Linked DNA regions of Homo sapiens. The protein of the gene in region 7 interacts with the protein of the main gene of each other region in a biochemical or structural test. Each region holds a gene or a part of one and is shown on either strand. Other genes may lie near its edges.

Evidence for each region.
Region 1: of the proteins of CAMK2A (region 7) and RCHY1, one has a biochemical effect on the other in vitro, tested with the Homo sapiens proteins (one study listed by BioGRID and IntAct).
Region 2: the proteins of CAMK2A (region 7) and STAT1 form a complex in vitro, tested with the Homo sapiens proteins (one study listed by BioGRID).
Region 3: the proteins of CAMK2A (region 7) and GRM5 form a complex in vitro, tested with the Homo sapiens proteins (one study listed by BioGRID).
Region 4: of the proteins of CAMK2A (region 7) and CREB1, one has a biochemical effect on the other in vitro, tested with the Homo sapiens proteins (one study listed by BioGRID).
Region 5: the proteins of CAMK2A (region 7) and CACNA1B form a complex in vitro, tested with the Homo sapiens proteins (one study listed by BioGRID).
Region 6: of the proteins of CAMK2A (region 7) and PPM1F, one has a biochemical effect on the other in vitro, tested with the Homo sapiens proteins (one study listed by BioGRID and IntAct).

What each region holds. Positions count from the first base shown.
Region 1 is NC_000004.12:75,507,904-75,511,403, forward strand, and holds part of RCHY1 (RING finger and CHY zinc finger domain-containing protein 1), read right to left. Parts: intron 1,394-3,500; coding exon 1,274-1,393; intron 1,033-1,273; coding exon 917-1,032; intron 1-916. UniProt on the Homo sapiens protein: E3 ubiquitin-protein ligase that mediates ubiquitination of target proteins, including p53/TP53, TP73, HDAC1 and CDKN1B. Mediates ubiquitination and degradation of p53/TP53; preferentially acts on tetrameric p53/TP53.
Region 2 is NC_000002.12:190,969,172-190,972,671, reverse strand, and holds part of STAT1 (signal transducer and activator of transcription 1-alpha/beta), read left to right. Parts: intron 1-1,954; coding exon 1,955-1,969; 3' UTR 1,970-3,500. UniProt on the Homo sapiens protein: Signal transducer and transcription activator that mediates cellular responses to interferons (IFNs), cytokine KITLG/SCF and other cytokines and other growth factors.
Region 3 is NC_000011.10:89,059,483-89,062,982, reverse strand, and holds part of GRM5 (metabotropic glutamate receptor 5 isoform a precursor), read left to right. Parts: intron 1-3,500. UniProt on the Homo sapiens protein: G-protein coupled receptor for glutamate. Ligand binding causes a conformation change that triggers signaling via guanine nucleotide-binding proteins (G proteins) and modulates the activity of down-stream effectors.
Region 4 is NC_000002.12:207,557,462-207,560,961, forward strand, and holds part of CREB1 (cyclic AMP-responsive element-binding protein 1), read left to right. Parts: intron 1-1,660; exon of another isoform or gene 1,661-1,794; intron 1,795-2,764; coding exon 2,765-2,911; intron 2,912-3,500.
Region 5 is NC_000009.12:138,055,782-138,059,281, forward strand, and holds part of CACNA1B (voltage-dependent N-type calcium channel subunit alpha-1B), read left to right. Parts: intron 1-1,950; coding exon 1,951-2,088; intron 2,089-2,267; coding exon 2,268-2,469; intron 2,470-2,787; coding exon 2,788-2,952; intron 2,953-3,297; coding exon 3,298-3,408; intron 3,409-3,500. UniProt on the Homo sapiens protein: Voltage-sensitive calcium channels (VSCC) mediate the entry of calcium ions into excitable cells and are also involved in a variety of calcium-dependent processes, including muscle contraction, hormone or neurotransmitter release, gene expression, cell motility, cell division and cell death.
Region 6 is NC_000022.11:21,928,849-21,932,348, reverse strand, and holds part of PPM1F (protein phosphatase 1F), read left to right. Parts: intron 1-1,057; coding exon 1,058-1,201; intron 1,202-3,500. UniProt on the Homo sapiens protein: Dephosphorylates and concomitantly deactivates CaM-kinase II activated upon autophosphorylation, and CaM-kinases IV and I activated upon phosphorylation by CaM-kinase kinase. Promotes apoptosis.
Region 7 is NC_000005.10:150,251,774-150,255,273, reverse strand, and holds part of CAMK2A (calcium/calmodulin-dependent protein kinase type II subunit alpha), read left to right. Parts: intron 1-1,727; coding exon 1,728-1,830; intron 1,831-3,208; coding exon 3,209-3,292; intron 3,293-3,429; coding exon 3,430-3,500. UniProt on the Homo sapiens protein: Calcium/calmodulin-dependent protein kinase that functions autonomously after Ca(2+)/calmodulin-binding and autophosphorylation, and is involved in various processes, such as synaptic plasticity, neurotransmitter release and long-term potentiation.

The DNA.
Region 1 (3,500 bases), on a different chromosome or scaffold from region 7:
GGGAAGTGTATTAATTTGGAGGGGGCACACAGGAAGCTATGAAGGTGCTATGAATGTTGTGTTTCTTGATCTGGGTAGTGGTTACAAAGGCATGTTCATTTGTTAAAATTCATAAAATCATTTGCTTATAATTTCTGTTATCTTTTGGTAGGTTGGTTATCCTTCCTTAAAAACAAACTATATTTTAAAAAAACAAAAAAAACAAAAAAAAAGCAAGAAAGTGATTTAAAATATTCAAGACAGTGATTACCTCCAGCAGGGACAAGAAGAAAGGACTGAACACGGAACACCTTGGGCTTTGACAGTATTGGTAACATTCCTTTCCTAAACTCGGTGGCTTATTCACTGTACTGTACTTTAGACACACTTTACATACATGCTTTAATATACATCTAAAATACTCGAGATTTTTAAGAAAGAAAATAATTCCTTATACACCGACATGTCAACAGTAGCTTGTCTGTGGTTAGGCTCTGGTTATTTTATTTTTATTATTTCTACTTTTCTGTTTTTTCCAATTTTTATAAAATCACCTGTATTTCTTGATAATTTTTTAAATACTAATTTTTACAAAGGAAAAATTTATCCCAATTCTCTACCTCAGTTGCCCATAAAACACTTTATATAAAACATATTTTATAATCCAAAGGTAAAATTCTAAATAGTTATACAATAATTGATGGGTAAATTAAATTATTAACAAATTATGAATAAACTTTTTAGAATGGATATGTTCTATAGCTTGATTGTGCTGATAGTAAAAGAGATACCGGTATTTATCAAAACTCACTTAATTGGACACTTAAAATGAATGTATCTTATCAGATGTAAATTACACCTTAATAAAGTTGATTTTAAAAACTATTATTGCATATACATTAGAAGCAATTAGATAAGAACACTTTACATACAGTACCTACAAATTCCACAGTTTTCACAGTGATACTGCTTCTTATCTTTGTCAAACAAATGGCATATATCGCAATAATATTCTCCAAACAATGTGCTACATTCTTCACAAGTCTGTTGGGCCTAAAAAAGAAACATAATTAAAAACTGCAATAAACTAAACATTTTGAGTTACCATTTGAATATCTAGAACTTATGTTCAACTATATGCAGTTTATTTTTATAAGTTTTGAAACACCTAAACCAAAGATATTGCTTATTCTAGAAGTTAAAGAAATCTTATTTATGATACTTTTGATTAAATTTTTTCAAACCACCTTAATACAGCTTTTAAAAAGAAAATAGAAATGTCATAAAATCTTACATGTTGAATTTTTTCACAGTTTATGCACTGCACTTCCTTCACTTTAAAGCGATCTAGTTGATGATCTTCATTGTTATCATGACACAAGCGGCAAGTATAAAGCTTGTCACAGCAAGGTGCCTAACACCCACGGAGAAAAAAGAGATATAGTAAGAAGCAAAAGAAACTAAGTGTGCAATACAAAAAGAAAATTTCTTCCTCCTCCTCCTGGATGGAACTGAAAGATTACAACCAATAGATCAGTTGCTAAACTGATCCTAAACATAACATTTCACTAGTTTCTTGGCATATTTTATGTTAATTCTTCCCTTCAACATCACTACGTCTGTATGAAGTTGAACACAACTTTAAAACAAAAGAATTATGAAGGAAATCCCTAGATTGAAACACTAATCCCACAACACCTGATATGCTTTGGCTGTGTTCCCACCCAAATCTCAACTTGAAATGTATCTCCCAGAATTCCCACGTGTTGTGGGAGGGACTTAGAAGGAGGTAACTGAATCATGGGGGCCAGACTCTCCCGTGCCATTCTCGTGATAATGAATAAAATCTCATGAGATCTGATGGGTTTATCAGGAGTTTCCACTTTTGCTTCTTCCTCATTTTCTATTGCCACCACCATGTAAGAAGTGCCTTTTGTCTCCCGCCATGATTCTCAGGCCTCCCTAGCCATGTGGAACTGTAAGTCCAATTAAACCTCTTTTTCTTCCCAGTCTTGGGTATGTCTTTATCAGCAGTGTGAAAACAGACTAATATAACACCCCAATTTCATTCTGAGCCTAAACAGCAAACAGGCAACCTCTTCTTAGACATTTCCAGATAAATTCATTTACATTAAAAATAATAAAGATTATATTCTTATTTTACTAGCTTTTATTAATCATCAACCTCATATCTAATATTGCACAAAATGCAACAAATGTAAGAGACAGCCCTTGTTTTCAAACACGGCAAAGACTGCCAGTTGTCCACCAAAATCTATCCTCTCCTTCCTGGGCACAATTGTTCAGCTATATCAGACAGATGGCCACATGCCCTAAAACATGACAAAATGATACAACAGAAAAATCTCATCCCTGGAGTGACCATGTGGAGCAAAGCCTCATCACCAACCTGCATCACTCGCCTTGGAATTGTTAAATGGAAAGAAATAAAACCTTTACTCTTTAATCTACATCACTGTTGGGTTTTTTCATTACAGCAACTTTACCATTACAAGTATATCAAGAGATTTCCAGGCCAGTGACTTTCCAATACACTGTGACCTTGCAGATCCACTCATTTCTGAAGGCTTCCTATGCCTTGACTTACCATAACGTAGTTCATTCCTTAAAGATTTTAACACTTAACTGGCTTCCTTTTTCTGCAACTCTCAGTTCCTTAACTTTGTCATTTCCAATAACCTTGTCCTCCAACCCACTATTCTCATAGTTATACCGCAGAACAGTAGTTCTCAAATGGTTTGGTCTCAGGATCCCTTCACACTTTTTAAAATTACTGAGAATCCCAAAGAGCTTTGGTTTATGTGGATTTTATCTATTGACATATACCACATCATAAATTAAAAAGAATAGGTTTTTAAAATATTACTTCTTTTTAAAAGTAACAAACTCATTACTTGTTAACATAAATAACATGTTTTAATGAAAAATAACTATATTTTTCCCCCCAAACAGCTGAATTCTTCTATCTGCTTATGCATTCAAACAGTTGTGGCTGAAGTACAAAAAGAAACTCTGGCCTCACACAAATATGTACACTGGAAAAGAAAGGAGTATTTTAATAGCCTTTTTGGAGAATTATGGATATCATTCTCTGATATTACACTAGAACAACAACTCTTAAAGGGTAGTTGCAACATGAAATCTGAAATCGTATCAAGGAATATGATTGATATGATGCCTCTTTTCTTCCTTGGTTACATTAAAATCTATTGCTCTATCTTGCACTTCAAATGGATGTTTTACTCATGCATTGGTCATCTGGAGAATACCAGTTCAGTGAGTTATTTACATCTTCTAAATGTTCACACATTTAACATGCAATATCAAAAAATCATATTCATTAAAAGTCTTTAGGTATTGAAGAAAATCTCACCAAAAAAAGTCTTTTAAAAAGCTTCCAACCTCACAAAAGCTAGTAAAAGTTTTCCAAAATTCTAATTTTTGTGTGAAAGCTTGAATTTTATCACTGGCAACAAATACTGTCATTTTCATTTGTAGTG
Region 2 (3,500 bases), on a different chromosome or scaffold from region 7:
GTCTCTAAATTGGGTTGACTTCACAATGGTTTGCTGTCCTGCCCCTTGGCCATGACTTCCATCCAGCATCTACTCTTAGAATCAGAGTGTATACTCTGAAACAGAAGCAGCTCTCCCCAAGCTGGCTGTCTTCTGCCAAGTCTGGAGGTTGCAGCTCTGAAAGAGGGTGGTACCAGGGGCCAACGCCTGGTGCAGCCTCAGGAGCAACAGGACCATAGGCTCCTGAGGAAATTGTCCAAGAGAGCCAGAGCACCAGTGTTCTCTGCAGTATGACTTGGGCATTTGTTTAGTCTGGATTTCCTGTGTAATCAGTGTTTTCCTCTGGGACTGTAATAGAACCAGTCTACTCTCCAAGAGGCCTTTAGCCAAAGCTCATAATGATAGGACTAGCTATTAATTGTCTACTACTTTCTGTCTACTATACTAAACATTTTACGTATGCCATCTAATTTAACAAGCCTATCTGCTAGGTACTATTAATCCCCTTTTGATAGATGAAGACTTTGAGATTTAGAGAGGTTAAGCCACTTGCCCTGGTCACGCAGTGACAGGATCTGAATCTGGGCTTCCTCTCTTCCTCTATCTATCTATCTCCCCCTCCCTCCCTCTCTTTACCCCCACGGTCCACCCTATTAAGCACACATTTGAAACATCAGCCAGGCCGGGCGCGGTGGCTCACGCCTGTAATCTCAACATTTTGGGAGGCCGGGGCAGGTGGATCACCTGCGATCAGGAGTTTGAGACCAGCCTGGCCAACACGGTGAAACCCCATCTCTACTAAAAATACAAAAATTAGCCAGCCATGGTGGTGTGTGCCTGTAATCCCAGCTACTAGGGGGGCTGAGGCAGGAGGATCGCTTGAACCTGGAAGGTGGAGGTTGCAGTGAGCCAAGATGGTGCCACTGCACTCCAGTCTGGGCAACAGAGGAAGACTCCGTCTCCAATTTGAAAAAAAAAAAGAAAGAAAAAGAAAAGAGAAACATAAGCTAGACTGAAACATAGGGGCAACACTTTCACTGTGCTTTTCAATCCAAAATAATTTTCCTAAGAGCCCACTATGTACCACACACTATTGAGCACTTGGGATTAAAAAAAAGTTCTCCAGAGGCTTTCCAGTCTAGTGCCATGTGTCTCAGTCTTGGTGCTACTGGTATTCGGGGCTTCAGAATTATTTGTTGGGGATTGGTGGGGTGGGGAGCTTTCCTGTGCTTCGTAGGAGGTTCAGCAACACCTCTGGCTTCTACCAAATAGATACCAGTAAGCACATGCACCCTCACAGCCAGATGGGACAATCAGCAATGTCTTCAGCCATTGCCAGGGGACAGAATCATCCTCGATTGAAAGCATCTGGTCTAAGGGGAAAGACCAGTGTGGAAGTCAGACAGGAAGTCACTGGCAGGCTAGTATCCTTTGGATGAACAGTTTACTTACTATAAGTTGTCCTGGTCAAGGCAGCTGGGCAGAAGGCACTGGTGGGGAAGGTGAAGGGGTTCTTAGTAATTCTGCTTCTTTAGTCTGTACCTGAAACACAGTCATTGATTTTACCCACTGAGTGGCCTTTAGGGGAAGTGTATCATTTCCCTCTCCTTCCTCTCTCCCTCTGGCATATGGCTCAGCATTTCCTCACCCGTTTCACATGAGCAGATTTGACACGTTGCTCTGTCCCCAGACTTGCATAACAGCAAAAAGCTTTATGCAGTCTGGATGGATTCACAAAATTAAGCCAGTGGGCAGCAGAGTAATAATCCGTCAGCTTAGGTGATATAAAAGGTCTTGATTAGCCCAGGATAATACATAGTACATGCTGAAGGCCCTCTTATTCCACGGTATTTATTTGCCATTGCAAGTATCTTCCTACTACTTCATTCTAGAATAGACAAGCAATGTTTAATGTATGAGTCTGCATTTCACAAGATCAGTGTAATAAACTTAACCACATTTTGTCTTTTTACAGATGAACACAGTATAGAGCATGAATTTTTTTCATCTTCTCTGGCGACAGTTTTCCTTCTCATCTGTGATTCCCTCCTGCTACTCTGTTCCTTCACATCCTGTGTTTCTAGGGAAATGAAAGAAAGGCCAGCAAATTCGCTGCAACCTGTTGATAGCAAGTGAATTTTTCTCTAACTCAGAAACATCAGTTACTCTGAAGGGCATCATGCATCTTACTGAAGGTAAAATTGAAAGGCATTCTCTGAAGAGTGGGTTTCACAAGTGAAAAACATCCAGATACACCCAAAGTATCAGGACGAGAATGAGGGTCCTTTGGGAAAGGAGAAGTTAAGCAACATCTAGCAAATGTTATGCATAAAGTCAGTGCCCAACTGTTATAGGTTGTTGGATAAATCAGTGGTTATTTAGGGAACTGCTTGACGTAGGAACGGTAAATTTCTGTGGGAGAATTCTTACATGTTTTCTTTGCTTTAAGTGTAACTGGCAGTTTTCCATTGGTTTACCTGTGAAATAGTTCAAAGCCAAGTTTATATACAATTATATCAGTCCTCTTTCAAAGGTAGCCATCATGGATCTGGTAGGGGGAAAATGTGTATTTTATTACATCTTTCACATTGGCTATTTAAAGACAAAGACAAATTCTGTTTCTTGAGAAGAGAATATTAGCTTTACTGTTTGTTATGGCTTAATGACACTAGCTAATATCAATAGAAGGATGTACATTTCCAAATTCACAAGTTGTGTTTGATATCCAAAGCTGAATACATTCTGCTTTCATCTTGGTCACATACAATTATTTTTACAGTTCTCCCAAGGGAGTTAGGCTATTCACAACCACTCATTCAAAAGTTGAAATTAACCATAGATGTAGATAAACTCAGAAATTTAATTCATGTTTCTTAAATGGGCTACTTTGTCCTTTTTGTTATTAGGGTGGTATTTAGTCTATTAGCCACAAAATTGGGAAAGGAGTAGAAAAAGCAGTAACTGACAACTTGAATAATACACCAGAGATAATATGAGAATCAGATCATTTCAAAACTCATTTCCTATGTAACTGCATTGAGAACTGCATATGTTTCGCTGATATATGTGTTTTTCACATTTGCGAATGGTTCCATTCTCTCTCCTGTACTTTTTCCAGACACTTTTTTGAGTGGATGATGTTTCGTGAAGTATACTGTATTTTTACCTTTTTCCTTCCTTATCACTGACACAAAAAGTAGATTAAGAGATGGGTTTGACAAGGTTCTTCCCTTTTACATACTGCTGTCTATGTGGCTGTATCTTGTTTTTCCACTACTGCTACCACAACTATATTATCATGCAAATGCTGTATTCTTCTTTGGTGGAGATAAAGATTTCTTGAGTTTTGTTTTAAAATTAAAGCTAAAGTATCTGTATTGCATTAAATATAATATGCACACAGTGCTTTCCGTGGCACTGCATACAATCTGAGGCCTCCTCTCTCAGTTTTTATATAGATGGCGAGAACCTAAGTTTCAGTTGATTTTACAATTGAAATGACTAAAAAACAAAGAAGACAA
Region 3 (3,500 bases), on a different chromosome or scaffold from region 7:
TGAACACCAGCCTGAGCCCTCCCGCTCTTTCCTCTTCCATGGATTTATCTTTCCCCTCGAACACAAAGCCTGCTAGTTATCCCACGGCGGGGGCATGAGCGGCATGCCAAGGAGGAAGCCCAGGCTACAGCGACTTAGGGAAGAAAACCCAGGGCAGGCCCGTGAGTGCGGAGGCTAGCCGGTGGCCCGAGCCCAACGTGCATTAGGACCTCTCCAGGGAAGTGACAGGTCCACCTGGAGGGCTCTTTCACCTGGTACTCGAATTTACAGCTGCCCTCATTTCCTTTCAGAGGAGTTGCTGTGTGGAAGGGAAATTTAGGAGAGGATAACAAGCGCTTGTGCTTATTTAGACACAATCTTGATGCTGCCTTAGCTGGACTGTTAACATCGAGTAACCAAGATAGGGTCTCCAATACTTTACTTTTTCAATAAGAAATTGATACAGACCAGTGAGAAGGCAGCTTCTCCTTTTCACCTTCTTCTCCATTCGCTACATGGGATTTTATTGTTCAGAGTTTCTCAGGACAAAGCTAGAGCTAATTTGTGTCTCTAATCCTGGGCACTGGCCATTTGAAGCAGCCAAAGGTGCATTGACCAGGACTACGTGCAGCCCTTCCTCCAGTGGGACATAAGCAGGGGTTTTCTGTGGAAGTCTTAGTTGCATGACATTCTACTGTCAGCTGTGGAGTGTTCAGGTATGCTACCTCTTGTTAGGTGTGCTTTATGCTGTTTTCTTTATGGAGTGCAGGGAGTTTCCTCCTTTAATTTCTCAGTTACCTCAATGTAATTACACATGTAAGAATCAATTGTGGCTATTTCTGTCCTTTATGCATGTTTATTTCCATTTAAACATGCCATTGGTTTAGGACTTGAAAATACTGCGTCCTGAACTCATTGGGTTAGTAGTGTGCGTCCCGTCAAATTTCCAGCCTTCTCCCTGTGAAATCTTGTCAGCACTCTGGACAGATCTTTCAAGTTTCTTAGGAGAAAAATGTACATAGCACTTCCTAAATAACAGCTTCTCTTAAGAGAAAAAGCTTTCTCTAGTCATTTACACTCCACATGACAAAATATACAATCTAGATATTTTAATTGCACCCCTAGAGGTTTGTGCTATCACACGGGAATGTTTTGGCTGCGGGCTACACACTCACAAAAAGCCCAAACTCTTCAATGTTCACTTATGAAAGGATGTGTCGAGATGATTTGGGAGAGGGAGTTGGTATCTGAATAATCCAAGTTTTTCACTTTTCTTCCATAGGTAGACACAGGCCTTTACTATCACTTTATAGTATACCTTATGGACATGATGACAAACACCCAGGGGGAAATTGAAAAATTCACTCATATCTATTATAACCAACCAGCAAAAACTATCCAGACTTTGGGAATACTTGATTAACTACATACCATTTTTAATTTTGGCTCTGATTATTAACATTGTTGTGTTTCATGTTAAAATGACTTACCTCATCAAAGGTGCTCACTTTTGTGACTAAAGCATTTTAATAATTCTACTTTTCTTATTTCTTTCCAAAACCCATTTAATATTTTATAGGAGTCTTACTATATTGTCTTTTACAGAATGATCATTTTGGTTAGAGAAACTAAATTAAGTGTCAATAAAATGTAGGTGGTACTACAAGTAGAAAATGTGAGATGAGGTTGATCATTAAAAATATTGTATTTATTTGTATACCAATTTTATCCCAGGTTTTCTATCCTCATGGGATGAAGACAGAGCTATATACAAATGTTTTATCTTACACATTCTTATTGTATTATGTATACGTACATGTGAGGTACTTTTATGTGTATCTCGATATAGATAGATAGATCATGTATAAACCAACTTTATAAAATATTAGATACTACTTTTTATATATGTTGATATACATATATGTTATATGATAAAGCTGATTTGGCTGGTTTAGAGGTTGGATATATTGAAGATGTATTATTACAAAGCAGGAAGATTCTGCACTTTAGAAATATGTGTTATGTGTTATATTCATATTCAGAGAAATATTAATTCTAGTCATTTTAGTCAGTGAGTGAAGCTTAGGAGAACATAAGAAGACATGAGCATCAAAAGAAATATTTTTAGTGCATGATGTATTTATATAACCCAAGAAAAGAAACTTCAATTTTTAGTTTTGAATTTTCAATTATTTGTAAATGAGATAGTATCTTGATATTCCTTTATCTTAGTTGTTTAAAATGTGTTTCTAAAAAACATTAAGGCATAGGTTTGCTTTCATTTCCTTTAAATTCATAGGAGATGAAAATCTATATTTTACCTTTCTGAATCATCTTTTAACTATATATAACTTTTGTCAGAAGGGCCATCAGGCAAAAGTCTTGGTGCAGACTCATCCCTGCTCTAATAACTACTATTTATTAAGCACGTCAGGCATCATGCTAAGCAGTAGGTATGTTATTTTATTTAATTATCATATCAACAATACAAGGCATTATTTGTTTTTCCTTTTCAGTTATAAAAACTACGTTTTTTATTCTACTGTCAAAGAACAGTGCATAGTTTATGCAGTGTTCACTGTGGGTCACTTTATTTTTATTTGTGCAATTAATTCATTATACTTATTCAATAACATGTACTGCCATAACCCATCCCCCATTTTCAAAATAAGGAAACATATATTTCATTCATATATATGTGTGTGTGTGTGTGTGTGTATATATATATATATATATACCATTTACCATATATGTAAAAGGCAAAAATAATGGAAATATATATACATACATACGCAAAAGAGAGAGATTTGATTTGTTTGGCACTAAAATTTACCGTGTTTCCTTTGTTTTGAGCTGCTTTACTCTGTGGTGTGGCTAAACAATAAACATTATGGGATTATTTTACTGTGGTTTCCAGTGAGTTGTAGTATGTTGGAAGTACAGGCTCTGGCTTCAAATTGCCTGGGTTTGAATCTCAGCTTTGTGGCTTACTACTTGTGTGACCTTAGGCAAGTTACTTAAATTTATGTACCTTAGTTTCACTATTTTCAAATTGGGGGATGGGTTATAGCAGTACATGGCATGGAGTGAATATGATGAATAAATTGCACAAGTTAGAAAAAAAGCAATAGGTGCAGAAGGAAAACCACCATGGCACACATAGACATATGTAACAAACCTGCACATTCTGCACATGTATCCCATTTTTTTTAGAAGACATAAAGAGAAAAATAAATTAAAAAAATAAAGTATCTGACCCATAGTGAACAGAGTGCAAACTATCAATCCTACCCAGGCCTTTGGATGTCGAGTTTTCTGCGTTTCCTATGTTATTACATTTAATGTTCAACTGCCCTATGGATTGTGTCTTATCTTTATTTTATGACTTTAATGATAAAACATAATACTAACATAGATTAAATAACTTGTCCAATGTCCCACAGTACAAACAAAGGTGACAAAGCCGGTATTTAAATCTAGGATCATCTGATTTCCAAACTTTTATGATACTGACCTACAGC
Region 4 (3,500 bases), on a different chromosome or scaffold from region 7:
CACGAGGTTAGGAGATTGAGACCATCCTGGCTAACACAGTGAAGCCCGTCTCTACTAAAAATACAAAAAAATTAGCTGGGTGTGGTTATGGGCTCCTGTAGTCCCAGCTACTCGGGAGGCTGAGGCAGGAGAATGTCATGAACCCGAGACCGCACCACTGCACTCCAGCCTGGGTGACAGAGCGAGACTCCATCTCAAAAAGTAAATAAATACAAATAAAAATTGAATGTACATGTGCCTTAACATCTAGAAGATGTACAACAAAAATATTAAAAGTGATTAGCTATGGGTGATAGGAATATAAAGGGTTTTTATTTTATTTTTTATATCTGTATTTTATAAATTTATAATGAGAGGAGCCATTATATAAAATTATTAGTGTAGAAAAGGGATTATTCATTGAGTTAGCTAGGTATATTTTCCCTAGAGAAGACTCAGGAAAGAGAACATAGTAATTGCTTCAAATATTACAAGAGCATTTATATGGAATTGAGATGAGATACTCTGAATAAGGTTATGGTTCTCAAACTTCAGTGTACGGGAAAGTATGATTGGGTTCCTGTTAGAGTTGACTTTACAGAGTATCCTGTGTGACTCTAATGAAGCTATTCCATGGACCACATTTTGAGAATCAAATAAAACTAAGCAAGATTTATAGTGGCCAGAGAGAAAGTGATTAATAAGTAAGGACTTTATTACTATCCAGAGATGGAAGCTTCTGGTTTTACCCTATATGCCAAAGACACTGTCTTTATAGGGATCTTCCCCCCAGGCTTCACAGTCACATATTTCGCTGCCTGCTAAAATAAACATCTCTACAAATTCAGATGTCAGAGTAGTTTCATCATCTTCCATTACAACCCCAGTCACCCAAAAGCCTATCCTTACTTCTTGCATTCTCTTTTTCAATTAAGGACAGTCTGCCAATTCTCTTTCAGACATGAAACATTGGGTCATCTGCAGTTCCTCTCTCACCTCTTTTAACTATTCATAAAGCCCTTTCTGGACTGCTTCCAAATTTTCATAAAATCACTTCCCTCGTTCCCATCTCTACTACTACTAACTGCCCTCTTTTTGGCCTTCATCATCTTTCCTTAACTACTTCATGGGCTTTCTTCGTTGGTCTCCCCACCACCAGTTTTCCCCCTGAAATATATATCTTTCACACTGCCACTAAAGTGATTTTTTTTTTTTTTTTTTGAGATGGAGTTTTGTTCTTATTGCCCAGGCTGGAGTGCAATGGCGCGATCTCGGCTCACTGCAACCTCTGCCCCCTGGGTTTAAGCAGTTCTGCTTCAGCCTCCCAAGTAGCTGGGATTACAGGCACCTGCCACCATACCTGGCTAATTTTTTGTATTTTTAGTAGAGATGGGGTTTCACCATGTTGGCCAGGCTGGTCTCGAACTCTAGACCTCAGATGATCCACCCGCCTCGGCCTCCCAAAGTGCTGGGATTACAGGCGTGAGCCACATTGCCCGGCCTAAAGTGATCTATCTAAAAGCAAACATCACCATGGTATTCAGGAGTTCAAAAGCCCTTCAGTGGCTTCTGCAATACCCTCAGGATAAAATGCAGTTTCTCTGAGGTGACATAATACAGGCTTTTTGTGACTAGCACATCTAGCCCCACCTGCCTCTGTTGTTTTCTCTCTCCCTACTTCATACATCATACAGTAACACACTTATGTGCACCATTGGTGCTGAGCTGCTGGTTATCCCACTCTGCCATGTGTGCTGTTTCTCTTTGCTTTTGCCACTACTCCACTCTGTGCTTGAAATTCTGTGACTCTTCCCTGTAAGTAATAATAACAAGTCTAACTTTTTTCTTTTGTTTTAAATTCACATTCTTCCCTGATAGCCTCCCCTTCTCTTAGGTTGGGTAGAGTAATTCTCAGTGTGTCCATTTTTCTTTTAGCAAACCTCATTACTAAACTGAATTGTATTGTGTCTCTTTTCCCCATTCCTTCGCATACATACCCCCAATAATTTATTTGAGGTCAGAGACCCCTATCTTTCTCACTTTTGTAGTTTCAGTTCTAACATTATTCCTGGAACATAGGTCCCCAATAACTGTTTCCTGATTTAGCAAATAAAATTCCTATCCTTGAATGTGTTCAAGCATAGGAGCAATAAATAACATCTGATAGACATGTATGATTTAAGGACCCTTTTAACCTGGGTATTGACTCATTAAAACTGCCTTAGTTCTAGACTTAGTAGGTCAGGTTTGCTTATGCTTGAGAGCAGTTAGATTTTAGAACGTGACTTATTTAACATGATATTCTTTAGAATTTTATGTTTCTTCAAGGATAGTATATCTGTTGACCTTGGGTGAACACTTAATCTCATTGAGCAGTTATTTGTGTTTTTAAAAATGGAGATCCTTATCACCCAGTCTTCAGTTTCTTCAAATAGCAAAATCAGAAATTGGAAATGAAAGCAGGTGGGAAAATGTAAAGTGCCATACAAATAAAGTGATATCTCATGTTCAGAGAGTCTGTATTACATATTTGGTATAACATGGGAATAGTTTTTAATTTTTTGTCACTTGGGAAGAGCTGAAAAGGATAGGGGTATAGTTTTTGGTGTTTTTTATAGTGTTTTTTCTTAAAGAATATTAAATTTAGTCATTACTTTCATATCAGTGAAATACATATCTAGCAAAAAGGTCACGTTTTTGCTTCTAAAAAGTTATTTCATATTGAACATGAGTACTGCCAAAGAGTGTCTGGGATGATAATTCTTTTCTGTGTTCAACACCATAGGTATCTATGCCAGCAGCTCATGCAACATCATCTGCTCCCACCGTAACTCTAGTACAGCTGCCCAATGGGCAGACAGTTCAAGTCCATGGAGTCATTCAGGCGGCCCAGCCATCAGTTATTCAGTCTCCACAAGTCCAAACAGTTCAGGTATGTGTATAAAAAGTTCTGCATCTATTTTAATAACTTTTGTTTATAGCCATATCTCTCTCCTTTCACTAGTTATGAAAATAAGGACACATCTAGTTCAGTTTATTTTATTCACAGTATAGGAATATGCTGCATCTGTATAGTCACCTTATGTATAGGAACATATATACAGAAGAACAAACATAAAAGAAAATGACTAATTTCTTAAGCTGCAGAGGAAAAAGAATTGATTGGGGAAAATAATGAAGTACATGAGATAAAGTGGAAGTGTTTGGGAGAAACTGTAGGACTGAAGTACCTCAGTCGAGGAAAATTGAGATGCAAAAATAGTAACTAATTTTCTAAATCTGCAATTGGAGAAAAATATACCCTTGATCAAAAATTAATAACCTTACCTAAGATATTATTTGACCTTAGAGATTACATAAAGCATTTGTAAAATCAGCTGTGCTTAGGGTTTTCAGTTACAGTGTGTAACTTTGAAATAATATATTCAGAGGTTACATCTTAAGGGTCAGGAATTATACTATGCATGTTATCTAATTCTTTGGAGAGATCTTTCCTTTGGGTTTGATCCACAGGTAATAAA
Region 5 (3,500 bases), on a different chromosome or scaffold from region 7:
TTTGGGAGGCTGAGGTGGGTGGATCATGAGGTCAGGAGTTGGAGACCAGCCTGGTCAAAATAGTGAAACCCTGTCTCTACTAAAACTACAAAAAATTAGCTGGGTATGGTGGCCAGCACCTGTAATCCCAGCTGCTCAGGAGGCTGAGGCAGGCGAATCGCTTGAACCTGGAAGGCGGAGGTTGCAGTGAGCCAAGATTGTGCCACTGCACTCCAGCCCGGGCGACAGTGTAAGACTCTGTCTCAAAAAAAAAACAAAAACAGAAACAAAAAAACAGCTTTATTGAGATGTAACTAACACATTATACTGCTTGTTCATAACAATCCACTTACAGTGTGCAATTAAGTGGCTTTTAGTCTATTTACAGGTACATGCAAGCATCGCCACAGTCAATTTTAGAACACATTTTCAGCACCTCAAAAAAAAAGAAAAACCCGCACCGTTTAACTATCATCCCCTACATCCCTGTCCCACCCCTAGCCAACTATGAATCTGTTTTTAATCTCTGTAAACCTCTCTGTTCTGGACACTTTTTGTAAATTGAATGATACAATATGTGGTCTTTTGTGAGTAGCTTCTTTCGTGTGATGTTTTCAGGTTTGTCCACGCAGTGGCTTGTGTCAGAGCCTTGTTCCTTGTTACGGCTGAATATGTGTTCTGTGCTGTGCCACATTTTCCTTATTCTTTCATTTGCTGATGAACATTGGGTTGTTTCTACCTTGTGGCTGTTATAAATGATGCTGTTGTATACATTTATGTCCACATTTTTGTGTGGGTCTGTTTTTGCTTCTCATGGGTGTGTACCTAAAAGTGGAATTAATGAGTGATTGGGTAACTCTGTGTTTAACTGTTTGAGGAAATGCCAGACTGTTTCCAAAGTGGCTAAAGCATTGTATATTCCCACCAGCAATGCATGAGGGTTCTGAATTCCCCATATCCTTGCCAACACTTGTGGTTTTCCATCTTTTTAGTTTTGGTATTTTTTAAACTACAGCCATCATCATGGGCATGAAGTGGTGTCTCGTGGTGGTTTTTATTTGCCTTTCCCTGATGATGAGTGGTGTTGAGCAGCGTTTCATGTGCTTAATAGCCATTTGTATATCTTCTTTGGAGGAGTGTCTATTCAGATCCTTTACCCATTTTTTATTTGGGTTTTTTTTTTTTTTTTTTTTGAGACGGAGTCTCGCTCTGTTGCCCAGGCTGGAGTGCAGTGGCGCGATCTCGGCTCACTGCAGGCTCCACCTCCCGGGTTCACGCCATTCTCCTGCCTCAGCCTCCCGAGTAGCTGGGACTATAGGCGCCCGCCACCACGCCCGGCTAATTATTTTTGTATTTTTAGTAGAGACGGGGGTTCACCATGTTAGCCAGGATGGTCTCCATCTCCTGACCTCGTGATCCGCCCGCCTCGGCCTCCCAAAGTGCTGGGATTACAGGCGTGAGCCACCGCGCCCGGCCTTTTTTATTTATTAGAATAGTTATTTACATATTCTAAATACAACTCCCTTATCAGACAGAGGATTAGGAAATAAGTATTTTTCCCATTCTGTGGATTTGTCTCTTTACGTTCTCGGCGTCCTCTGAGCACAGAAGTGTCCGATTTGATGCGGCCTGATTTATCTGTATTTTTTATTCTGTTGCTCATGATTTTGGTGTCACATCTAAGGCTCCATTCCCAGATTCGAGGTCACGAAGTTTTGCCCCCGTTTTCCTCTAAGTGTTTTATAGTTTTAGCTCCTTACACTTAGGTCTGGAATCCATCATGAGTTAATTTTTGTCTATGGAGTAAAGTAGGGTCACATTCATTCTTCTGCATGTGGACATCCAGTTTTCCCAGCACAGTCTGTTGGAGAGGCCATTCTTTCCCCACGGAATGGTTTCAACACTCTTGATAGGTGGGTTTATTTGGATCTTTTGTCTTTGCCCTCTAACCTCCCATGTTCTCATTCCTAGGGGTCAGTATTTGGATTATGAGAAGGAGGAAGTGGAAGCTCAGCCCAGGCAGTGGAAGAAATACGACTTTCACTACGACAATGTGCTCTGGGCTCTGCTGACGCTGTTCACAGTGTCCACGGGAGAAGGCTGGCCCATGTGAGTGCTCATCCTGCTCTCCGTAGCTGGGGCAGGCAGCCCCTGAGCTCGGCCTCCCTTCCTCCCTCTATCCCTGGGCTCAGGCATGGAAGCAGACCCACCCTTGTGGTGCAGGTCTTGAGTTCTTAGGGCTGTCTCCTTTGGGGGTTCCCCTGACACTTGCTCTCCTCTTTGCCCAGGGTGCTGAAACACTCCGTGGATGCCACCTATGAGGAGCAGGGTCCAAGCCCTGGGTACCGCATGGAGCTGTCCATCTTCTACGTGGTCTACTTTGTGGTCTTTCCCTTCTTCTTCGTCAACATCTTTGTGGCTTTGATCATCATCACCTTCCAGGAGCAGGGGGACAAGGTGATGTCTGAATGCAGCCTGGAGAAGAACGAGGTAGGTGGACGCTCTGTGGAGTCTTGCAGTGGACAGCGTGGGCAGCGCCATCAGGCTTCCCTCCTGCACACAAATCACTCACAGCTGGGTCAGCTTTGGCTGCCACCGTCTGCCAACACAGGGGCAGGTCCTCCTTTCTCCTGCAGAGGGACCGGATTTGGCTGGTTGAGGCCTGCTTGGAGAAGGTCTGGGCTGCTTCAATTTGTCTTCTGTTGTCAGGGCTCCCTGTGAGGCCTGGCGAGACAGGGCTGGGTGCAGTAGATGCCGTCGGGTAGGTTTTCTGCTTCTGAGTCTCTGTGCTCCTTTCTCCCCTTACAGAGGGCTTGCATTGACTTCGCCATCAGCGCCAAACCCCTGACACGGTACATGCCCCAAAACCGGCAGTCGTTCCAGTATAAGACGTGGACATTTGTGGTCTCCCCGCCCTTTGAATACTTCATCATGGCCATGATAGCCCTCAACACTGTGGTGCTGATGATGAAGGTGTGTGGGGCTCAGCGCAGAGGGGCAGCTGGCGCTGCTAGGGATTGGGATCTAACCCTGAGGCTGAGTGGAGAGTCAGCCTTCTTCCTCCCTGCATGAGCCAAAGCAGTAGTGGCCTTGCATCCTGGCCAGCATGGGATGCCTGTGGAATCCTGTTTCCCTTTGTTGTCTGTGGGCTGGGACAGTGGGGAGGTTCTGGGAGGACTCGGGGAGAGCAGGAAGGGGTGTCCCAGGCCTAGGCAGGCATCGAGTTCTGTCTGCCCGCTTTGCTTGGTCATAGTGGTCCCAGATGGGGTGTCTTGGGGCTGCCAAACCCATGGCCAACAGTGCCTATTCCCCGGGCAGTTCTATGATGCACCCTATGAGTACGAGCTGATGCTGAAATGCCTGAACATCGTGTTCACATCCATGTTCTCCATGGAATGCGTGCTGAAGATCATCGCCTTTGGGGTGCTGGTACGTGCTTTGGTCCCTGCTTTGCCTTTTGACAACCTATATTCTGGTTCCCCATCTGTAGGGCGACCTTTGGGGGCTCACAATTTGGAGCT
Region 6 (3,500 bases), on a different chromosome or scaffold from region 7:
TCACCTCAGCCCCAGGAAGTGACAAAGGCCTCTGAGCTCAAGGCAGCCTCAGAGTAGAAAAGGGATTCTCTGAAGCAGGCGTAACTGCTTTATTGAGGCTGGGCACAGTGGCTCACGCCTGTAATCCCGGCACTTTGGGAGGCAGAGGCCGGCGGATCACTTCAGGTTAGGAATTCGAGACCAGCCTGGCCAACATGGTGAAACCTCGTCTCTACTAAAAATACAAAAATTGGCCAGGCGCGGTGGCTCATGCCTGTAATCCCAGCACTTTGGGAGGCTGAGGTGGGTGGATCACTTGAGGTCAGGAGTTTGAGACCAGCCTGGCCAACATGGTGAAACCCTGCCTCTACTAAAAATTAAAAAAAAAAATTAGCCAGGTATGGTGGCACGCGCCTATAGTCCCAGCTACTTGGGAGGCTGAGGCATGAGAATCACTTGAGCCCAGGAGATGGAAGTTGCAGTGAGCTGAGACTGTGCCACTGCACTCCAGCCTGGGTGACAGAGCAAGATTTTGCCTCTAAATAAATAAATAGCCAGGCGCAGTGACTCACGCCTGTAATCCTAGCACTTTGGGAGGCCAAGGCAGGCAGATTGCCTGAGCTCAGGAGTTCAAGACCAGCCTGGGAAAGAAACATGGCAAAACCCCGTCTCTACTAAAAACACAAAAAATTAGCCAGGCGTGGTGCTGTACGCCTGTAATCTTAGCTACTTGGGAGGCTGAGGCAGGAGAATCACTTGAACCCGGGAGGCGGAGGTTGCACTGAGCCGAGATTGTGCCACTGCAGCCCAGCCTGAATGACAGAGCAAGACTCTGTCTCTAAATAAATAAATAAATAAATAAATAAACATCTTTATTGAGATACAATTGACAGGTAGTAAGTGGTGCATATTTGAAGTCCACAATTTGGCAAGTTTTGGCTTATACACATATACACCTGTGGATTCCTCACCACAGTAACGGAAGTATTCATCACCCCCGGAAGCTTCATCCTGCCCCGTGTCATCCTCTGCCCTTCCCTACCTCCTCTCAACTCTCATGGGCCCTCTCTCCCTGCAGCGGCTGCAGAGCGGCACCACAGGTGTGTGTGCGCTCATTGCAGGAGCGACCCTGCACGTCGCCTGGCTCGGGGATTCCCAGGTCATTTTGGTACAGCAGGGACAGGTGGTGAAGCTGATGGAGCCACACAGACCAGAACGGCAGGTAAGGGGATCCCTGCGCCCAGGCCCAGGATATTCCTGGCCTCCATCATGCTGGGCCCATAGGGGAACCCCACCCAGCCTGGGAACTTCAGGTAGTAGTAATCCTGGCACCTTTCAAGAGGGAGGGCTCCCTGCCTGATTTGAGTGGCCGGGGGTCCCACGTGAGCCCTTCCTGAGAGCTCTGTGGGTCACAGCTATATGGAGCCCAGAGCTCCGGGGGAGAGCAGAGCCCTCTGCACTGACAGGCATCCCAGTGCAGTCAGTGCAGCCCAGTGCAGACCAGAGCCCATCATACACACGGACAAGGAGGCCACAGGCTGTGGGTGAGGAAGGCCTCAGGGAGGTGATGCTGCCCCGAGGCTGGAGGGAACCTGGCTTGGGGCTGTACTGACTAGAGGCTGCCTGGGACCCTGGCACTCAGGTCATCACCTGGACATGAGGATGACAGTCCCACTCAGACCTCTTCTCAGAAGACTGTCTCATCCATGTGTCTCCTGAGGTTGGATTGCGAGCATTCAGATATCATGGAATGACTGTTTATCCCTCAAACCCCACTTTTCCCACGTGCTGTTCTCCACCAGCTATGTTTGATTAACCATGCACATGGTGGATAATTCTACGTCAGCACATAGGAGCACCCATCCTTTCTTGGGGCTGCGGACATTGCATTCATCATGCAGTCCCTTGTGGGTGAGCATGAAGATCTTTTCAGTCTTTCGGTGCTAAAAACAATGCATCTCTACCTACTTTGTGCAGCATTAATTGCTCAGAGTCAAGTGTACCTATATCTGTAGGACACATCCCCAGAAGTGGGATGGCTAGGTTGGAACTGATGCACGTACAGTCTGGGTAGATTTGCCAAGCTTCCCACCTCAGGCCATGCCAGCCTGGGCTGGCACTACATTCCCAAGAAGGTCCATTTCCCCACAGTCTCACCAGGCTGCAGGATTCTTCCTGTCAGGTAAGAAGCCTGTCTTGGGGCAATTGTTAAGTTTGCTTTTCTGTTACAGAGTGAGTTTGAGCGTGTTTTCAAAAGCTGAAGATCATTTACACAGCCTTTCCTGCAAACACTGTTTTTTTCCTTTGCCTGTTTTTCTTATCAGTTTATAGGTTCCTTGTATATGTGAAGGAGGTTGGTTCCTTGTCTGTGATGATTTGCAAATGTTTTTCCATGCATCTTTTATTTTTGTTTATGGGCTTTTGCCACATGGAGGCTTTGTGTTTTTCTGTAGTTGAGTAGTCTTTTTGTGGCTTCTGGTTTGGAAAGCACATAGAGACACCAGGACTTGATGATTGTAACAGTCAGGGGCAGCTACATTCCTTGGCCTTTCACTGCGGCTCACGGTCTGGTATGGGCCCCCTGTACGTCCTCTCCCCATTGTACAGAGGAGAAAACTGAGGCTCAGTCACTTGCCCAGAGCACACCGCCAAAGTCACAGATAGTCTCTGCCACTCCCCTGCCTCCACCACCGTGGGGGAATTTGGCACCTGCTCCCTAGTGGGCTCTCCTCCCCAGGATATGCAGTCAGATGAAATGTGGCCAAGTCAGGATTCGTGCTGGGCCCACTCCCACCTGCTGCCTGCACACCTACAGGCTCAGCATTCAGCACCCCATTAAAGCCCAGTGGGGGCTCTGTTCAAACACTGCCTGAGTCCTGCAGTATGGCGTCGTGGCAGAGCATGGACAGATGGCCTTGCCTGGTCCCGGCTCCACCGCTTCCAAGTCCATCACACAGGGGTCCCTGGAGGTTTGGGGTAAGGATTGAGTGTCCCAGTGCATGTGGAGCACAGAGATCAGAGCTTGCACAAGAGAAGCACACACAGGTGTCTGTGTTCTTGGCTGCAGCCCGCATGGGCCAAGGAGTTCAGATCCAGTGCCCCCCACCTCCCCTTTCCTGCCGCCATGCTCTGTAGGCTTGGCCCCTCCTGCTGTGATCCTGATCACAGCCTTCCACCCTAGAGAATTAATCACAGATCCAGGCCAAGGTTCTCCCACAAAAACAAGCATCATGTCGGTTACAAGAGCAAGAAACTGGCCTCAACTTGGCGAGCTTCAACGGGGGTCCAGCAGCGGCCCAGAGCAGCTTCCAGGAGTACGTGGGGGGAGTGCGTGGTGCTCTGCCTTGTTCTGCGGCTGTCTGAACAGTCTCCTGCCTCTGCACTCAGTTCAGCCTCCAAACACTGAGTGCCCACTCTGCACAAGATACTTTGTTGAGGCAGTGAGATAACACAGGACCCACTTCCTGCCTCTAAGTCTAATGGGGGAGCAGGAGGAGGGCAAGGACCTGGCAGGATGAGGC
Region 7 (3,500 bases):
CGAGTGTGCACTCCAAGAGGGTCTCCAGCCAGACTGCAGGGCACCTCTCCCAGAGGGCCTGTTCCCATTATAGCTGCAGCCCCTGCACTGGAGGAGGAAGGAGGAGAGGCAGCCCAAATTTAGGCCACTCTGGATATAATAATTAGTGACACATTCATCAAATCAGGGCAGGACGGTTACCGAGACCCAGGACATGTTAGGAACATTGTCCCCAGAGGACAAAGGAGGCCTTTGAGCCAGGCGGAGGGAGCTATATTTGTTTGGGTCCAGCCTAGCTTTAGACAGTGAAAGGTCAGAGGTGGGACCCTTCAGAAGTCCCACTGGGAAGGGGATCAGAGGAGGACTCAAAACCAACAGTCTTCAGAGACTCTGAGCCCCTCCCCAAGCCAAAAATAGAAGTACTAACATTTACCAAGCACTTACTGTAGGCCACAGCGAAGTGCTTACACAGATTATCTCAGTTAATCCATGCACCACCCCATAAGGTAAGCATTTTTCTCAGAGGAAACTAAAGCTCAGAGAAGTGAAATAATTTGCCCATATGTCATGGCATAGAGGTGGGCAGCATCGGGATCAGAAACTGGGACTATCTAAGCGAGCCCACAGTCTTAGCGCCCCTCCATCCTGAGTCTCAGGGTGAAGGGACCAGCAGGAAGTGGAGGAATTCTGGAGGCTGAGCCAGTGCAAAGCAGCAGCCTCGATGCCCAGAGGCCAGGTGTGGGACCTTCCCAAGTCAGCTGCTGGCCCCATGTATAAGCCTCATCATCTTTCAGCCTAGAGCAGTTAAGATAGAGTCAGACTTTGCCTCGATTCTGGCTCTATCCCTTACCAGCTGCGTGATCTTGGCCAAGTCACTTAACCTCTCTGAGCTTCAGTTTTCTCATCTTTATATACGTGACAAATACTTATTAAGTGCCTGCTGTGTGGCCCCCCAACCTAGGTGCTGGTGATACAGTGGTGAACAGGACAGATAAGGAACTCACATTCCCCAGGGCTGACAGATGATAAACAAGCACATAGACAGATGGGAGAAAACACTGCAAATTGTGATGAGATCTATGAAGGTAACAACAGGAGCAAAGACACAGGATGCCTGAGGGCTTCCCCTCTAGATAGAGTAAACTTGGATGGCCTCCTCCATGGGGTGACATGAGACTGAGGGCTGGACAAAGTAAAGGGGCCACTTTGAAGCTTGGGGGAGAAAAAATTAGAGGAGGAAAACAGGAAGTGCAAAGGCCCTGAGGTGGAAACAAGATGGACTGTTTCAAGGGGCATAGGAAGGCCACTGTGGAAGATGTAGGTAATAATACCTACCCGAAAGGGTCGTTGATACAAGAGATGATGCACGCAGAACACTTAACCCAGCAGCTGACATATAGTAGGGGCACAATCAATGCTGCTGCTGCTGCTGCTGCTTTATTGTGGTGGTGAATGTACCACCCCGCTCTCACCTCAGCCCAGCCCCAGATCTTGAAGTGGGGAGGGAGGAGTGGCTGATGGAGAAAGGGCCTTTCTGTTGTAGCGGATGGAGGTCTTGCCATAGGATAGTCCCCTCTCTGGGGACTGAGACTCAGGAGCCTGAGGCGGGGCTGGAGATGAAAGCAGGGGCCCCGGAGGGCCGGGCTGTTCTTCCTGTGAGCCCAGGCCCCTAGAGGTGAGGCTCTGAATCTGCTGACTGTCTCTTGGCGCTTTCCTCCCCTTCCTCCCTCTTCTCTGGTCCTGACAAGCCTGAGAATCTGTTGCTGGCCTCCAAGCTCAAGGGTGCCGCAGTGAAGCTGGCAGACTTTGGCCTGGCCATAGAGGTGGAGGGGGAGCAGCAGGCATGGTTTGGTAAGTGGGGTGGGCTGGCAGAAGTGTTGGGGGTCAGCACCCATTTGTGTTGACACATAAGCCTCTGGGAACCCCCTGCCTGAGTGGGTATGGCTGGAGATGCTGTTGGGCCAGCCGGGGCTGGTAGAGCAGAGGCCCTGTCCCACCCAGCCTCTGAGCCAGTGGGCAGCACCTATCTGTGTCCCCAGGGTTCAGGCATGGGACCCTACGGCCTTCCACAGGGCTCCCTGGGGCCCCCTCTCTCCTTTCCTGTCACTCCCCTCCGCCATCTCTCCTCCCCAAAGGGCTCCCTGTGGTTGAAGGCCTTAGGGAAGTTTCCACAGAGCTGCCCTAATAGTCTAGGTGCTTGAGATTATTATCCTGATTTTATAGATGAGGAAAAAACTGGCAGAAAACTTGCAGAAGGTCAAGAAAGTTTAAAAGGGATAGACCAGGACTTAACTCAGATGATCCAGCCTGCTTTGTGATTTTGGTATAACTGGGTCTCTTTAAGCTACCTGGGAGTACTTTTTAGTGGGCAATATTGAGCCATGGTTAAGAACCAGAGTTCTGGGTTCAAATCCCGACTCTGCTACTTATGAGGTATGTGACTTTGGCTAAGTCACTTCACCTCTCTGTGCCTTCGTTCCTCATCTGTAAAATGGGAATAATAATTGTGTGTCCCTCAGGAGTGGTGTCAGAATTAAATGTGACCAGGCATATGAAGTGCTCAGCCCAATGCTTAGCATACACACTCGGTAACTTGTAAGTGTTCTTAAAAGTGCTTGTTAGAATACCTCAGGTGTCCATTATTTGAACTGACCGGCTCAACAACCCTGGGAGGCACTTAAGATAGGAATCCCTAATCCTTCATTTGACAGATGAGGAAACAAGGACTAGAAGATAAAGAGACGTACCCAAGGGGCAAAGTCAGTTAGGACAGGCCTCCCGACATCCCATGACCAACTCCAACAAGGGGGTGCAGAGTGGGCTTAGCTCTCAGCCTGGGGCTGACATGGCAGGTGCATTTCATCTTGAAGCCACCAGCAATGGATCACTAGTGGCTCCTGGAAGAGTGGTGCTGAGAAGCTTATGATCCTGAGTCAGGACCCAGTAGGAAGGAGTTCTGTGGCTGATTACCACTGGCTCTGAAGTGGGAAGTGGTGACAGGTGTGCTAGGTAGTTGTCGATCTGATCTAGAGGCTTTGCTGGCTCATCAGGCTTATGTCTTGGGCCGACTGGGGTTGCACAATACAAGCCCAAGTGCACCTGAGGGGCAGGGGCTGTTTTCCTCAGCTCCAGAGCAATCCTCATCCCCTCTTCCAGCAGGATCTTGCTCCAGGTTACTTACGAGACAACCTCTGTGTATGTGTCTGCCTGTCTGTGTGTCTGGGAGCAGGGTTTGCAGGGACTCCTGGATATCTCTCCCCAGAAGTGCTGCGGAAGGACCCGTACGGGAAGCCTGTGGACCTGTGGGCTTGTGGTGAGTTCATCCTAAGGCCCTTTTGTGCCCCTGGCTGCACCCCGGCCTCTGGGGCCCCCTCTCTCCTTTCCCATCACTCCCCTCCCCCCATGTCTCCTCCCCACAGGGGGTTGAAGGTTCTCTGGTCCTCTTTCCAGGGGTCATCCTGTACATCCTGCTGGTTGGGTACCCCCCGTTCTGGGATGAGGACCAGCACCGCCTGTACCAG